4 separate regions of the Homo sapiens genome follow, and regions 1, 2 and 4 are each linked to region 3. The links come from fine-mapping of genetic effects on plasma protein levels. A gene starts in region 3. Each other region holds a variant in brackets. All regions are shown on one strand. Distances are from middle to middle.

The links. PIP is the posterior inclusion probability: the model's chance that the variant is causal. Protein levels are from antibody-based Olink assays in UK Biobank. Linkage for the fine-mapping came from a reference panel and not from the study's own genotypes, which makes the PIPs less certain.
Region 1: its variant is fine-mapped to the plasma level of the ACP6 protein (UK Biobank, PIP 0.98).
Region 2: its variant is fine-mapped to the plasma level of the ACP6 protein (UK Biobank, PIP above 0.99).
Region 4: its variant is fine-mapped to the plasma level of the ACP6 protein (UK Biobank, PIP above 0.99).

Annotation. Positions count from the first base shown.
Region 1 is chr1:151,541,835-151,544,499 of GRCh38, reverse strand. All of the region lies in intron 1 of TUFT1 (tuftelin 1), which reads right to left. Among named protein-coding and RNA genes, the nearest start is that of MIR554, 2.6 kb to the left of the region's middle. The variant C/GC (reference allele first, on the strand shown) is at 701.
Region 2 is chr1:149,907,804-149,910,485 of GRCh38, reverse strand. It overlaps SV2A (synaptic vesicle glycoprotein 2A), which reads left to right. Exons shown (of 13, transcript NM_014849.5): 6 at 596-685; 7 at 915-1,025; 8 at 1,206-1,294; 9 at 2,280-2,444; 10 at 2,653-2,682. Among named protein-coding and RNA genes, the nearest start is that of SV2A, 8.7 kb to the left of the region's middle. RefSeq lists an enhancer at 1-309. The variant T/C (reference allele first, on the strand shown) is at 1,175.
Region 3 is chr1:147,669,093-147,671,774 of GRCh38, reverse strand. It overlaps ACP6 (acid phosphatase 6, lysophosphatidic), which reads left to right and starts at 1,251. Exons shown (of 10, transcript NM_016361.5): 1 at 1,251-1,945. The coding sequence starts at 1,727. RefSeq lists enhancers at 789-858, 1,299-1,548, 2,189-2,248, 1,460-2,403.
Region 4 is chr1:150,015,642-150,018,323 of GRCh38, reverse strand. All of the region lies in intron 1 of LOC124904413 (a long non-coding RNA gene), which reads right to left. It also overlaps a transcript of OTUD7B not described here. Among named protein-coding and RNA genes, the nearest start is that of OTUD7B, 6.3 kb to the right of the region's middle. RefSeq lists enhancers at 1-533, 534-1,193. The variant T/A (reference allele first, on the strand shown) is at 1,086.

The DNA of each region.
Region 1 (2,665 bases), 3.9 Mb before region 3:
CATGATGAAACCCCATCTCTAGTAAAAGTACAAAAATTAGCTGGGCATGGTGGCCCATGCCTGTAATCCCAGCTACTCGGGAGGCTGAGGCAGGAGAATTGCTTGAACCAGGGAGATGGAGGTTGCAGTGAGCCAAGATTGTGCCACCGCACCCCAGCCTGGGTGACAGAGTGAGACTCCATCCTCCCCCTCCCACCGCCCAAAAAAAAGGTGATTTAAGGCCAGGTGCAGTGGTGCACACCTGTAATCCCAGCACTTTGAGAGGCCGAGGCAGGAAGATTACTTTAAACCAGGAGTTCAAGACTAGCCTGGGCAACATAGTGAGAACCCATATCTACGAAAAATGAAAAATTAGCTAAACATGTTGAGTATGCCTGTGGTCCCAGCTACTTGGGAGGCTGAGGTGAAAGGATCCCTTGAGTCCAGGAGTTCAAGGCTGCAGTGAGCTATGATCACACCACTGCACTCCAGCCTGGGCAACAGAGTGAGACCCTGTCTCAAAAAAAAAAAAAAAAGTGATTTAAAGAAGGATGGAAAGAAGGAAGAGAGGGAAGGAGGGAAATGAAATCAGAGATCATCCATGGTAAAGTCTAATGTCATAGACATCTGTTCTTTTGCCACGCAGCTTCCATTCCCCTCCACTGATAACAACACTTGGGTCTTTGGAGAATCTCCTTCCATCACTGTAATCTGGGGGGGG[C/GC]CTATCAGTCAAGGAACCCTGTCCTGCTCTGGACAACTGGGGGCCAAGGGACAATGGTACTCTCTCCCTGGAATCTTGAGCATAATGGTGCAGAGACCTAAAACAGCTGGAACCAATTCACCAATAGTAGTAAGCCTCCATCGTTCCACTTACCCAGGCCCCAGAACATCCTTGGTTAGGGCTTTCTAAGCTTTCCCTTAAATTCTGTGAACTGCTCTATTTCCTTCTAATAATTTCCTCATCTGCTTAGTTTAGCTGGAGTCATTCTCTGTTGTTTATAACCAAAGGAAGTTAATGGAAATATCTAGTAAAAAGGAGTTTGGTGTTTATTTGTTCTTTTATTTGCCAATATAACTTACCACAGTGGCTTGCAAAACTTTTCAATCTCAAAAACATATTTCACATCAAGACCCAGTAAACAAACACGTACATATATAATACACACACACACACACACACACACACACACACATATATATATAACTGAAATAAAAGTTCTACCAAAAATGTCTATCCTCACTAACACTCTAAGAGTGTTAATTCTATTTCTTTTTTAATACTGGTCTGACCTACTAAGTTGATCTCAGACCCACTACTGGTTATGGTCTGCAGTTCTGAAAAACACTGGCTCCTTGTACCTGCTGCATCTGCCTCCAACAATAAAAACATCCCAGAGAGTGTATTGGCCCTATGTCCATGTCCACATGTGATACGCTAAGGCACACTGCCTGGCTAGTGGGGAAACACCAACAGAGTCCCAGGGCCCTCACTCCCAGTAGGATCTCTAATCAGTTCAACTGTCTACATTCTGACTCCGGAAGAAACATCTGTTCATTTATTTATTGACTCACTTTGCACATGAATTGAGCACCCATTCAGTGGTGTGAATATATGACAGATTCCTGGGGGTTGTCCAGAGCCATAAATTCTGTCTGCAAGTTGGCTCAGAGAAGAGGAATCCAGGACAAGGCCTGTGTCCCGACTGTTCACCATCTCCTCCCCTCCCTTAAGGGCCCAGGAATGTCTCCAAGATCAGATCTGGGCAATGATTACTTCATTCCCAGCTCTGGAGTAAAATAAGTCTCAAGTTCAGCCTAGAAAAAAGGAATAAAAGGGAATTTCTGTCTCTCCCTTGCTCTAGAGGTCTCTGGTTAGCTTCAAACTAACCTATGATGGAGACCATCTGAATTCCTTGTCCATTATTTTCTCTTAGTAATTTTTTCTGCCCCACCAGACAAAGAGCAAAAACATCAAGAAAGAGTAAAAGGGGCCAGATGTAGTGGCTCATGCCTGTAATCCCAAGCCTTTGGGAGGCCAAGGTGGGCAGACTGCTTGAGCCCAGGAGTTCGAGACTAGCCTGGGCAACATGGTGAAATCCCATCTCTACCAACAGAAAAAAAAAAAAAAAATTTTAGTCAGGTGTGGTGGCATGTGCCTACAGTCTCAGCTACTTGGGGAGACTGAGGTAGGAGGATCTACTGAAACCAGGAGGTGGAGGTTGCAGTGAGCTGAGATCATGCCATTGCACTCCAGCCTGGGCAACAGAGCAAGGCCCTGTCTCAAAAAAAGAGAAAAGAAAAGAGAAAAGAAAAGAAAGGAAGAAAGAAAAAAAATAGTAGAGGTTAATGATTCATTAACACTGCCAGTGCCAACTTGGTCTTAGACTTCTTTCCGGATCTCTTTTCTATATAGCAAGCAAGCAAAAAGCAGCCCAAACATCCCTCTCCTTTATTTATCTCATACCCTTTTCCCTCAACTATTCCAAAAGAGAGAGCAAGAGCATGGAAGAGAAGCTATAGGTGGTGTGCATCTGAAGTCCCAGCTACTCAGGAGGCTGAGGCAGAAGGATTGAGGCCAGGAGTTCAAGGCTGTGGTGTGCTATGATTGCACCCGTGAAGAGCCACTGTACTGCAGCTCCGGCAACATAGCAAGACACTCGTCGCTTAAAAACAAAGAGCAGGGAGT
Region 2 (2,682 bases), 2.2 Mb before region 3:
AACTGGAGTTTGATTTGATCCTGTTTGACTGCCTGCCTTCCTCACAGAGTCCACTCTCCAGGGGACTTTATCTTGCATTCTTTGCCTTGGAATGTGTCCCTGAGGGGTTCTTGGGTGGAGAAACCAGGGGACCTCTTTACCCATGGATGACTTAAGATTTTGCAGGGAAGGGCCTTGGCCCTGTCCTGCATTTACAGCTCAAGAGACATTCCCACCCCCTATACCTTCCCCTCCTAACCCCAGCAGGATTAGGTCTTTGACTACATGCTTGCCCATCATTTCCCTTACCTTTGGTTTTTACATTCCTCTGTACTATGGAATTCCCAAGACCTGTGCTTGCCTTTTTCCCCTGGACAACACTCCCCACCCCCAACCCGCAGCTCTTGCCCAAGTCTGATTGTCTTGCTATACCTCAGCTTGGGGCTCTTTCAGAGTGGTGAGTGCATGCCCATAGGTCAGGGCTTGGTGGTGGGGTTGAGGGCTGGGAACCATTTAGTGTCCTGTGACTACAGAAGCCAGGTGGGAGGGAGGGGGTCTATAACTCTGGGTCAGGTAGGGGCTGACTTGGATGTGGGGATTGTGTCTTTGGCTCTAGAATGGAAAGCATGATGAGGCCTGGATGGTGCTGAAGCAGGTCCATGATACCAACATGCGAGCCAAAGGACATCCTGAGCGAGTGTTCTCAGTAAGCCACAGCCCTCCCGACTCAGACCTCCACGCCCTGCAGCCCCAGCCCCTACCTGGCCCCTCTCTGAGTACCCCCCACCTCAGACCACACTCTACCGTAAGGAGATTTTCAGGGTATCATATCCACCTCCTGCCTCCCATTTTGCTAATGCAGGGGAAACTGAGGCGCCTGGCCGATGTTGGGAAACACAGAGTGTGTGACTGCCCACCCCTTCTCTTGACCCCAGGTAACCCACATTAAGACGATTCATCAGGAGGATGAATTGATTGAGATCCAGTCGGACACAGGGACCTGGTACCAGCGCTGGGGGGTCCGGGCCTTGAGCCTAGGGGGGCAGGTAATGGTGGACGGGGTGGTAGATAGAAGGGAGTGGGGGAAGTGGAGAAGAAGGCAGGACTGAAGTCTATGTGTGTGGGTGATGGGTGAGCTGAAGGGAGGTGGGAGGGCAGAAAAGTGGGGATCTATGGGTGCTAGAACTTAGTATAG[T/C]CAAGGTCTGACTTTGTCTGGTCCCCTGTAGGTTTGGGGGAATTTTCTCTCCTGTTTTGGTCCCGAATATCGGCGCATCACTCTGATGATGATGGGTGTGTGGTTCACCATGTCATTCAGGTGAGGAGATGGGTGGGCTGGGTGATGTGTGGTGGTTGTGGTGGTGTGTGGGCTGGGAGAGAGGTGGGGAGAATGGAGATGCAGGGGACAAGCGATGAGGGAAGGTGCCATGCAGACCCCCTCTGATCCTGCAGCCAGCTCCTCTACTTCGCTAGTTCACTCAACAAACTTGTACTGTAGGCTGACCAGGATTCAGTTTCTATTCTGTGCTGGGATGAAACAGATGTGGTCCAAGGTCCTCCTGGAGTTTATGTTTTGGTTAAGAAGCAGGACGATGAGGCTCGTAATCCCAGCACTTTGGGAGGACGAGGCGGGCGGATCATGAGGTTAGGAGATCGAGACCATCCTGGCTACGGTGAAACCCCGTCTCTACTAACATACAAAAAATTAGCCGGGCATGGTGGTGGGCGCCTGTAGTCCCAGCTACTCTGGAGGCTGAGGCAGGAGAATGGTGTGAATCCGGGAGGCAGAGGTTGCAGTGAGTCGAGATCGCGCCACTGCACTCCAGCCTGGGTGACAGAGCGAGACTCCGTCTCAAAAGAAAAAAAAGAAGTGAGACGAAACTTGCTATGAAGCAGGGTGATGAGAGAAGGGTGGGGGAAGGGCAGTGGGAGCACTTGGGGCTTGGGCTGGGGTGGGGACCTAAGTCCTCAAAGGTGAATGGGAGTCAGACAGGTGGAGTGGGGGTGGCTGGGGTGGAGAAGAGTGTTTTTGGCAGAGGGAAAAGCAAATGCTTGGGAGGTAAGAAAAAGTATAGTGGCTGCTGTGCGAGACCCTGAAGTCCCCCAGGAGCGCAGCAACTGTTGAAGGGAGGAGCAGGGAGAAGCTGGTGAGGCTGGAGAGGAGCAAGGTCCTAACAGAGGTTGACTCCATTTCTCCCTTGTTCTGAGATGATACACATTTCCGTTTTCTCCTCTGCCTGATTCTAATCTCTGAGCCTTGTCTGAAGCCCTGTTGTCTGTTTCCATTGTCCTTGACTCTTCAGCTACTATGGCCTGACCGTCTGGTTTCCTGACATGATCCGCCATCTCCAGGCAGTGGACTACGCATCCCGCACCAAAGTGTTCCCCGGGGAGCGCGTAGAGCATGTAACTTTTAACTTCACGTTGGAGAATCAGATCCACCGAGGCGGGCAGTACTTCAATGACAAGTATGTGGGGACTTTTAAACTTCACTTCTTCCCTGTTCCTTCTACCTCGTCTCTTTTATGAGTCTAGGGGTTCAAGACAAGACATTTGGGGGGCAAACACTTGTGGTTTCTTCTCAATGCCCAGCTTCCCATTACTTCGCTAAAGAGTGAGTCTTGGAGGGGGCATGAGGATGACGGGGGAGTGTCTTTCACCATCCTGGCCTTACAGGTTCATTGGGCTGCGGCTCAAGTCAGTGTC
Region 3 (2,682 bases):
GCACACACAATAAGACTCTGAAAAGTGAGTCCCTTGGCTGGGCTAGGGAGAAAATTGTGACAATATGTAGTGTTCCAAAATGACCCTCCTCCCTGCATCAGGGAGGGGAGCACTCAGAACCTTCCAGCTTGGTGAACAGAATTTGTTCTCAGGCCAGGAGCCATGCTCTGTAAGTATGTTGTCTTTACATCTGGCCCAGTTTGATCTTTGGAGATAGACACATAGTGGGTCCCAGATTGTGTCCTGTTGCAAAGATCTGGAAACACAGGCTTGGGATACCTGTATATCAACAGAAACCAGACTAGCAGGTGGTAAGGCTGGCATTGTTCTGTGTTCTTAGGTTTTTTTTTGTTTTTTTTTTGTAGACGGAGTCTTGCGCTGTTGCCCAAGCTGGAGTCGTGTGGCGCGATCTCGGCTCACTGCAAGCTCCGCCTCCCGGGTTCACGCCATTCTCCTGCCTCAGCCTCCTGAGTAGCTGGGACTACAGGTGCCCGCCACCACGCCTGGCTAATTTTTTTTTTTTTTTTTTTTTGTATTTTTAGTAGAGACGTGGTTTCACCGTGTTAGCCAGGATGGTCTCGATCTCCTGACCTCATGATCTACCCGCCTCGGCCTCCCAAAGTGCTGGGATTACAGGCGTGAGCCATGGCGCCTCTTAGGTTCTTAATCACTGGGACACCCACAGGCAAGGCCTGGCTTTTTCCACAAGAAGTATTCTGGATGGAAGTAAACACATCAGTGACCTGAAAGTTCTACATGATTACAATGACTTAAGCTTGAGAATTTTTTTAAAAACAGAGAAGGGAGTAGTAAATGACTAAATATAAAGCACCTAGTGCTGTGTTTCGCAAATGGCAATCACTCGGCAGGTGTCTCAGCTCCTCGCTGCAGCAACCAGGCTTCCAGGACTGGAAGGAAGTCTTCTACATTCAAAACTAGACTCAAACTACTCCCCTCCACCACCCAGTTCTACTCCTGCGCTCGCGATCCTCCTGCCTGGCAAACTCCATGGCCCGACAGATTCACTACCACTCCACTGCCGGACCAGGCACGTCCGTGGGCCATCCACGCCTGGAAAACGGCTGGCTGGGCCGGAGGGGCGAGGCCCGCAGGCGAGGGGGGCGGGTACAAGCCACTTCTTGGGAGCCGCGGTACGCGCAGCCTTGTGGGAGTTGTAGTTTCCGCAGCTCTGAGTCTCCAGGCGAGGTGTCACCACAGGACTCGTTTTCCCGTGCTCCTGTGCGCGGGTCCACTTGGGACGGGTCCCTGAGTAGGTGAGGAGGTGGGTAGGAGCTTGCTTATAGAAAAGTGGAATCGAGTAGTCCTTGCTGGTGGAGCCGCTGCCGCCAGGGAACTCAGGGCCGGCTCCTGTTCCTTCAAGAGTGCTGGAGGCCAAACTTGAAATACAAGTTTAATGTTCCTCGTCGGGCAAAAGATAAGGATCCGATCTCCCCCGGCCCGGTGTGCAGCAGGAGCGACCAACCCCGACCCGGGTTAAAACTCCCAGGGACTCTTCGCTGCTGCCACCTCTTGTTCTCTCCCCCGTTCCCACTCGGGGTCTCCCTCAGGGCCGGGAGGCACAGCGGTCCCTGCTTGCTGAAGGGCTGGATGTACGCATCCGCAGGTTCCCGCGGACTTGGGGGCGCCCGCTGAGCCCCGGCGCCCGCAGAAGACTTGTGTTTGCCTCCTGCAGCCTCAACCCGGAGGGCAGCGAGGGCCTACCACCATGATCACTGGTGTGTTCAGCATGCGCTTGTGGACCCCAGTGGGCGTCCTGACCTCGCTGGCGTACTGCCTGCACCAGCGGCGGGTGGCCCTGGCCGAGCTGCAGGAGGCCGATGGCCAGTGTCCGGTCGACCGCAGCCTGCTGAAGTTGAAAATGGTGCAGGTCGTGTTTCGACACGGGGCTCGGAGTCCTCTCAAGCCGCTCCCGCTGGAGGAGCAGGTGAGAGGTCGGCCCGGGCTGGGGCTGGTGGGGCGAGGACCGTGTGCCAGGCCAGGAGTCTCGCCCTGACACACATCTTCAGAGCTTTACTCGCGCGGAGCGGGGCTCGGGTTGGGTCCAGAAGAAGGGAAAACAGCAGTAGCCAGTGACTCCCCAGGCTCTTGAGCAAAGGACCTGCTGGGGTTAGGACAGCCCCGGAACTTCCAGTTTTGCCCTGATGGCGCAGCCATCAGTAAGCGCTGCTTAAGACGCATGGGAGTCGCCTGGGGATCCTGCTACGTTGCAGATTCTGATTCAGCAGGTGTGGAGTAGTGCCCCAGGTCAGCATTTCTATTAAGGGTCTAGGTGAACTTGAATACAAGGGTGCAGTGCACTTCTGTGTGACCATTTTGAAGGTGGTTTGTCAGAGCTGAAGGGCTGAAGGGACTTTAGTGATAGGAACCACTCTTAACTGAGATTACAGTGGATAAGAGGTCGTTGCCTTTGGAAACAAACTTTATAACTGCTTTTTCTCAGGGTTTGCTGGAGGCCATTTGAGATCTCCTGAAGTTTTTTTTTGTAACAAGTGTTGTATTCTAGGGTTCTCCTTTTCTATTTAAGGTTACTAAACCTATAGTGGGAGGGATCTGAGGTCGGAACAAATTTAAAATGGGCTAGTCTGTGGCAGTAATGTTTTAAAAATCTGTCTGGTTTTGTCAGGATAATTATGACTAAAGCACAAATAGTTTAAAAAAAAA
Region 4 (2,682 bases), 2.3 Mb before region 3:
TATTTGGCCCCTCAGTTTCCCTTCCTCTTTCCTGCTATAGGCAGTGTTTTATTTTTAAACGTGCCTCAGTTCTTATATTTTTCCCTTGGGTGCTTCTAGAGTACTTTACTCGTATCCATGGATCCCTTCGTAGGTTTTGGTCTTGTTTCACTAATTTCTTTGGACCTCAGGATTTTATCTCTTTTTAAACTAGGAAGGTTACCTACGTAATGGTGACACTTTTCAATTCTAAATTTTTTTCCAACTGAAAATAATGACTTCCATTGACATCTCTATGGTTGTTGCTATGCTTTGCAGGCTCGTCCATAGACCATAAGCAACATGGGAACAGCCACAGTGCTGATCAGGACAGTAATATGGAAATGGAGGGCACGTCAGTGAGAGATTCTAGTAGATGCCAATTAGATATAGTCACTGAACCCCAAAGCTCCCTGATGTGGGGAGAAAAAGCATGTCTTTATAATTTAGGAAATGTTCTTAGTATGTGGTACCTGTTGAGGTCAACCTGGGCCATTAGTCACAAAGAAAAAAGGGGAGTTAATGACAGTGTCAAGTAAATGCCCCAAAGCAATAACCAGAGCCTGATGTAGTGTCAATCTTCTATCCCCTGAATGCTCTGTCAGTTTCCAGTAGCCTGAGTTTGGCCTCCCTCCTAGTGCTGACCTAGTCAGGGGCAGAGTGACTTTGTCATTCCATTCCCAGGCCTCTCCTCATTGCCTGAGCTAAAGTGTTGGTAGTCTTAAGTACATGCTTCCTCCAAGCCTGGGGTGTGTCACCTGTGAGGTGGAGATTAAGCTGACCCACCTGACCTGCATTCCAATTAGGTAAGGTAGCACTTGCTCTCCTCATAGCCTAAGGAACTGGCTTCTTTTCTCTACCTACTTGTTGCTAGGCCTGTAATGGCCTTAGAAGCCCATTCTTACATCCTCAGGGGATTTGTCAGGACCATACTAGAAACACACCCAATCTTGCCAAGGGCCCTTTTTTAATCTCTTAACCCAGCTCTCCTGGGAAACTGTTACTTGCAATAATTGGGAGCTGATAAATCTTATTTACAATAAAGCACCTCCAGTGATTTTAGGGCC[T/A]GGAGGCAGGGATTTTCTTCTTAGGAGTTCTCCTAATGCCTAATCCTAGGAACACTTTAGGGAGTGCAGGAAGGTAAGATGGTGTCACTAAACTCCTCTCTTTTGACATTTTTATTATTGCTAAGTATTTTTCATTAATTGATTAAGCGGTTCACTTATGAGCAAATACTTGTGAAAATTAACAATTCAAGGCAATTGCTAAATTCCAGTTGACTGATAAACACATTTATAGTTTAGGATTTAACACAAAGACTTTAAAAGGAGGTGATACAGATTGGGCCTTGAACTCTCTCCAGAGAGAAAACTTAGAGACAGGGGAGACAGTTGGGTGGTAACATGGTGGTTTGCTGGAGTTAGCTCAAGCTGTCTCTTACTGACTTGCTAGAGCCGACTGCACATTTCCCAGCTCCTTGTTCAGCAACATCACATTGGTAGCATGAACTTATCAGTGGTAGAAATATTTGCACCATGAAAATTAGTAACTGCTGGCTGGGCATGGTGGCTTACTCCTGTAATCTCAGCACTTTGGGAGGCCAAGGCGGGTGGATCACCTGAGGTCAGGAGTTCAAGACCAGCCTGGTCAACATGGTGAAACCCCGTGTCTACTAAAAATACAAAATTAGCCAGGCGTGGTGGTGGGTGCCTCTAATCCCAGCTACTCAGGAGGCTGGGGCAGGAGAAGTTTGAACCCGGGAGGCAGAGGTTGCAGTGAGCCAGGATTGTGCCACTGCACTCCAGCCTTGGCGACAAAAGCGAGACTCTGTCTCAAAAAAAAAAAAAAAAAAAGAAAAAGAAAAGAGAAAGAAAATTAGTAAATGTTACAAATCAGGGCTTTTTCACCCTGGAGAACCGGTTGTTAATATTTACTAGCACACCACTGGTGGTCAAGGAAGTAGAACACAAATGTAGAAATGGAAATGTAGAAATGGAGTTAAGACCAGGCTGGGTTCCCTCTTACAAAGGAGATTAAGGAATTTTCAGTTTATCCATTGACACTGAGGTATTGTTGATGACATTTTACTCGTTGGGATTATTTTGGTTACAAGCAATAGAAAGACTAAATTTGAAATGGCTCAAAAAATAAGAAAGATGCATTTATCCCATATAACAAGAATTTCAAGTTGGACCACTCTGGGATAGGTTAATTCAGCAGGGCACCAAAGACCCAGATTCTTTTAATATTTTTGCTCTGTCATCCTCAGTATGTCAGTCTGGCCTCTGACCAGCACAACATTTCCAAATCCAACAACTTTCAGCAGCAGAGGAAAATAATTTATTCTTTCTTTTCATCTCTTTGTAAGAGCAAAGAAGACTTTCCCAAAAGCCTCCAGCGGATTTTCTCACATCTCGAATTGGTCAGAACTCTATCACATGCCTAGATCAAGCACTGGCAAGGGGAAGGGAGCCCCATGATCCATTAGTGTTTCACCCGTGTTCCTCCCACTCAGCCCCCGCCCCCTCTACTGAGGCCAATCTCCCCTGAAGCCATGTACAGCAGGCTGGTTACTTGAACCTAATCAAGGTTCTATAGGCATGGAGGAAGAAGGAGGATGGACATTGGTTAAGCAACCAACATGTTTGCTAGAGTTTTTGAAAA